2 separate regions of the Homo sapiens genome follow, and region 1 is linked to region 2. The links come from fine-mapping of genetic effects on gene expression. A gene starts in region 2. The other region holds a variant in brackets. All regions are shown on one strand. Distances are between the middles of the regions.

Region 1 (2,922 bases), 51 kb before region 2:
GTATGACTGTGTGTGTATGGTGTCTTGTATGACTGTGTGTGTGTATGGTGTCTTATATGACTGTGTGTGTATGGTGTCTTGTATGACTGTGTATGGTGTCTTGCTTAGTGGGTGAGTGTGTGTGTGAGTGCAGGGAGTGGGGTAGGGCAGAAGACGGTGATAAGAAAGGCAGTATCTTCTTTGCCTGCATACTAAGTTCAACACATGCACCCATACCCATACAAAACCCAGGAATTTTCACCTTTAACAAGATAGAAACACAACTCAAGATGGACCTCTCTGGCCATGTCCCCCAGAGTGTAACTTCTCTTCCACATGGGGTCTGTTCTTCCTCCCTCCCCACAGCTTTTCAGCTGGGAAATTGATACCCACCTCCCATGAGCAGCCTTTCTAAGCGACCGGGAGCTCCCTGCACCCTCAGCCTGACCTTCCCGTGCTGAGCCTGGGCCCCTGGCCCCAGCGGGGCGGCCAAAGCTGCCGCCAGGGCCCATCCATCAGGCTCAGCACAGCCTCCCGCCCTCGCCTGCCCCCACCACATCCAGCCTGTAAGTCAGCAGGCCGCCGAGAGGGACCCCCAGGGCCTATCTGCCACCACTGCCCCCTCAGCACCCCCCTCGGCGTAACAGCTACTGGGCAGAGGAAAGTAATGATTCCTCCCCTCCCAGCCTCCTCCTTCTAAAGCTGACAGCCTCTCCCTCCTACCTGGTGACCTGCTGAGATCTGCTGAGACCAAAGCTGCAGGCCAAAGATAAAAAATGCCTGGCTATTGACTAAGACACAATAAAGGGCCAATTTGCATGTTATTTGCATACCAAGTTAATGTCAAAATGGAATGAGCCCCCGTACCGCTGCAGCTTTCCTCAGTGGCCCTTATCCTCAACCTTTCTCTGCAGGCCCTGCACGGGGCAGGGGTCTCTTTCAGGCCTGTTGATGGCAGGGGTCTGATCCCAGCTGGGCTGCGGCACATGGTAAGCCGCCCAGAGGGCACCTCTCCACTGTGTCCTCGGCGGCCCCTGCCTCGGCACACTTTCTCAGCACCCTGAGAAAGGCCAAATCCCATGCTGGCCTCTTGCCCCCGCCCACTGCGCCCCACGCCCCACCTGCTGTGTTTGTGCAGGGGTGGAGGGAACATAATGAGAGGCTGATGTTCCTGCAGCTGGGCTGTGTTTGGAGTCTGGTGGAGTGAGGGGAGGGCAGCAGGGCAGGTCGGGGCAGCAGGACGGAGGGCCAGGCAGGGCCGCAGAGCCTC[AG/A]GGCCCAGCAGTAACAGCTCACACATGATTTTTCTCCCCACAATGTTCTCCACTCCAAGCCTGTGGGCCCCCAAGTCGGAAGCTTCCAGGACTGTAACAAGCTTTAGTTTATACACAAACAGCTGCATTTTCCTACTACCGTTTACTGCAAGGGAGCCAGCGCAGCATCCTCTCAGCTTTGCTTGGCCTCAGCAGTGAGTTGAAGCTCGGCTTGGCCAGCCTGGGAGAGCAGGGACGGCAGGGCCTGTGGATGGGACGCATCACAGGTGGGTCCTGAGCTCTGGGGTCTGTGATTCAGTTTCTCCTCCCCCAGTTCCCCAGATTCCCTGTCCCCTTGGACTTCGGTGTGTACTTACTCCAGCATCCCTCATCTCACCCGCGTATAAATACAGAGAAGGAAAAGAGTTTCAGAACGGAGGCAGTCGTTTCAGAATGAGTTGGATCATTTGCCAGGTGAAAGGACCGCCCGTGATGTCCTATAGTGCCTTGGTGTGCCATCACCTCCAGGCAAGGGTGGCACACGGGAACTGTGCATGTCCCCTCCCCTTCCACACTTCACTGCAGCCAACCAAGGCTTTGCTTCCCGGTAGCCTCTCCCAAGGCCCAAGGCGGCCTGGCTGACAAAGGACAGATCACTGCCCCAAGGAAAGGGCATGGAGAACAGTGGCCCATGTGAGAGAGGGGTGTGTGGACAGAGGGGGCATCTGAGGACAGGAGGCGAACCCAGCTCTGATGTGGTAAGGGCTCTCACAGCCCTGCAGTCCCCACACCCAGTCACCCTGCAGCAACCAGGCGAGGAGGAGGAAGAAGGCTCCGTCCAAAGTGGGGCTAAGCTTGCCTCTTCTGACCTATAGCATCAGAGAATGGTGACCCTACCCATGCCGCCCCGCCGACCACAGTTAGGCCCCTTTGGAGCGGCGTGGGGTGGGGACCCAGCAGGGTTGGCAGCATCCGCTTCAGGGCTGCACGCTGAACAAAAGCAGGGCGAGCTGGAAGCAGATGCTGGCACCTAACAGAGCAAACAAGTCACTCCACCTCTCTGTGCTTCCGTTTCCCCCTGCCCTTTTTTTTTTAATACTTGAAGTTCTAGGGTACATGTGCACAATGTGCAGGTTTGTTACATGTGTATACATGTGCCATGTTGGTGTGCTGCACCCATTAACTCGTCATTTACATTAGGTATATCTCCTAATGCTATCCCTCCCCCTCCCCCCACCCCATGACAGGCCCTGGTGTGTGGTGTTCCCCATCCGGTGTCCAGGTGTTCTCATTGTTCAATTCCCACCTATGAGTGAGAACATGCGGTGTTTGGTTTTTTGTCCTTGCGATAGTTTGCTGAGAATGATGGTTTCCAGCTTCATCCATGTCCCTACAAAGGACATGAACTCATCTTTTTTTATGGCTGCATAGTATTCCATGGTGTATATGTGCCACATTTTCTTAATCCAGTCTATCACTGATGGACATTTGGGTTGGTTCCAAGTCTTTGCTGTTGTGAATAGTGCCGTAATAAACATACGTGTGCATGTGTCTTTATAGCAGCATGATTTATAATCCCTTGGGTATATACCCAGTAATGGGATTGCTGGGTCAAATGGTATTTCTAGTTCTAGATCCTTGAGGAATCGCCACACTGCCTTCCATAATGGTTGAACTAGTTTACACTCCCACC
Region 2 (2,894 bases):
TGATTAGGAGGATAGACTTCGGGGTTAGACATTCCTGGGGTTCTACTCTACTCTTCTTACTAGCCATTTTTTTGACCTTGGACACATTACTTCTCTTTCCAACTTTGCTTTCTCGTTATAAAATGTAAATATCTGGAAAACAACTTCATTGGGGAATGGAAAGGCAAAAAACTGTTGCGAAAATAAAGAGAGAAAAAAATTATACAAACACTTGGTGATGTGATTTAATTCCTTGTCTTTGTGAACAACTATCTCCGTATCTCCCCAAAAAGCATTACCTTCTTCTAGCTAAAATGGGCCTTTTCCCTCTTTCACAAATGCATTTTTTAAATCAATCTTTCCTGATTCACTTCAGCTGTCCCTGACAACTACATGCAACATCTGTTGAAAGACATTTGAAGGTCCACTAAATTCCAGTCACTCTGGGGTTGTATGTTACATATACTCCAACATACATACACACACACACACACACACACACACACACCCCCTTTTTTCTTATGTATCATTTTCTCATTCCCAGTTCTGATGGAAGATAACCTTTAGTCTAGAACCACACAGCCTTTGTATATCTCTACAGCGATCCCTGTAGTCTGCACACAGCGTATTCTACGAATTGCTTACTGTCAGATGTTTAGAAAGGGAGGACTGTCTTATTTATTTATTTCTGTGTTCTCGGTGGTTCCTTATATTGGACGGTAGTTTACAAAAGTTTAATTAATTTGAATGCAAGGCTTTAGAGTGCACCACAAGTAACGTCTCAGTTTTCCTCGGTTGTAGCAGAAAGCAGCTGCAGGTTCCTCCACCTTTCCCGCGTGGTCCTTACCATGCACAGGGAGACCGTAGGGCTTATTGATGACCACAAGGTTCTTGTCCTGGTGGAGAATTCCTCGGGTCAGTGCCTTAGCAAGCACGTTGGGGTGGACTCGCTGCAGCTGCCGTGTGAACCGCACTATTTCTTGCACTCTCCGCTGAACAGCGTTTGTGGACACCTAGGGAGAAAGAAGGAGCCGTGGGGAATGCCTGGTGCGGAAGCCGTGGAGAAGACCTTCCATAAAGGTCTGGGTGAGAATCTGAGTAGGGAATGACTATCTTTGCATCAGACCCGCGCCGCCTTCGACTAATTTGAGAGCAGAGATACCCATCTGTCTAACCTGCGTACCGACGCAGTGGTTAGGACTGAGCCTGACAGTAGCCAAAGATCCAGCTCACGGGAAAACACCGTACCCTTACTGACCCCTCCCCTCCGCCTTCTCCCCATTCTCCCACCTTGCGTCCGGGCTATTGACTCACACGCTTTCACTCAGAGGACCCTCCTACCTACTCCCCGTCTGGGAAACCAATGAGCGCACTGCCTCTAGGGAGTTCTGGTCCCTTTGGACTCACCGGCTCCTTCTTTGTGTCTTGTTCCCGTTTCTGGGCTCGGAGCTTCTCCGCTAATCTCTGGGCATTTATGGCCGTAGAGGCAGCGGCAGCGGCACAAAATGGCTTTGAGACGAGAGTGAAGAGACTCCCGCAACCTTGGCCGTTTCCCCGGATCCAGGGGCCCGACGCGCTCCACCTGGGCGCCGCCATCTTACAAGGAAGGGCGGGGCGAGCCAAGACCACGTGGAGAAGGGCGACTACAATGAGGCGGGAGTGGGTGGGCCCTGCAGGTCACGTGGTGCGGGGTGGGGCCTGGGCGAGTCACGTGGGGACGGTGCGCGCTCAGTGCGGCTGCGCCGGCCGGTAGCTGCAGCTGGAGCAGTGGCGTTTGGAGGAGACTCGGTGAGTGTGTAGGGAAGCCGGGCTGGGGCTGGGAAATGCCGGTGCCTCAACGGTTTAACGTTTTCTGCGTCCCCGGGATTTCCGTTCAAGAAGAGCACTGGTCTGAGAAACGTTTCTCCTTTTGGTACACGATCCCACTCAAAAACTCCTCCCCGCCCCCGCGCCCCCTTAGGAGCGATGTCCCATAAACGCTCGCCCCAGAGCCCTCCTAGGCACCGACGCCGTCCCTCTTAGCCACTGAATCTCCGGTGATCCGCCAGTCCCCTGCGGGACGCGTCGGGGACCCTCTTGATCGGATGCCCGGATCTCTGTAGTCTCTCCACCCTTCATCTTCCAACTCCCAGCCTCTTTGTTTCGCGTTGTAACCTGTACCCTTCTCCTAAGGATGACGGCCCCTTCCCTTATCCAGGGCCCCCAGCACCTATTTCCTACTTAGGAAGCACTGTGAGTGTTTTTTCTGCCCTTCCTCAAGAATTCATTTCTTGGGGGTCTCCTCCCTACCTTCCCTACTCCTCCTAAAGAAAAAGCTGAAAGAACGGAGCACAGACCTTCACTTTTCCTGTTTCCTTTATTTTTCCTCTCCATAGTTTGCAACCACACCATACCTCCTCTCACGAGATGCGATGTTGGGATTCCCTTGCCCGAACTGCAGGCGACTCCCTCTGATTTCACTCAGGGGTGGCTGGGAAGATAAACATCTGTTTGGGATGGTAGTGTTAAAAATAACTTGGGATATACCTGCCATTTGTTAAGAGGAAAGCTTATGCTGAGTTCAGAAAGAATGTCCTGAAAACTAATGGATCTGTGACGATAGAAGGAACAATTTTTTAAGACTGCTTGGAATGAAGGCTGCCTGAGGAGTTATTAGAGAATAGGTAGTTGAATTAGATTTGGGTTCTACACCTCCTAAAGGGTTTGGCAGAAGGGAGCCGTACCAACAAGAAACAAAGTTGATCAGGTGGAGCTACTCATAGAAGACTCAAGTTGAAGAGTTTGAACTAGAGGTGATACGTAGTGAGGAGTCTTTGAAGCTTTTCGAGTAGGGCAGAGAGACTCCTTGAAAGTGGAATTCTGGAAATGAATCTGGCAGTTGAATGCAGGACAGATGGGGAAGGAAAGGGTTTGAT

The links.
Region 1: its variant is fine-mapped to the expression of RPUSD4 in lymphoblastoid cells (GTEx, PIP 0.98).

What each region holds. Positions count from the first base shown.
Region 1 is chr11:126,159,330-126,162,251 of GRCh38, forward strand. No RefSeq gene overlaps it. Among named protein-coding and RNA genes, the nearest start is that of RPUSD4, 51 kb to the right of the region's middle. RefSeq lists enhancers at 565-1,209, 1,210-1,854. The variant AG/A (reference allele first, on the strand shown) is at 1,250.
Region 2 is chr11:126,210,064-126,212,957 of GRCh38, forward strand. RPUSD4 (RNA pseudouridine synthase D4) reads right to left here and starts at 1,587. Exons shown (of 7, transcript NM_032795.3): 1 at 1,387-1,587; 2 at 827-992. The coding sequence starts at 1,575. FAM118B (family with sequence similarity 118 member B) reads left to right here and starts at 1,719. Exons shown (of 9, transcript NM_024556.4): 1 at 1,719-1,767. RefSeq lists an enhancer at 1,372-1,601.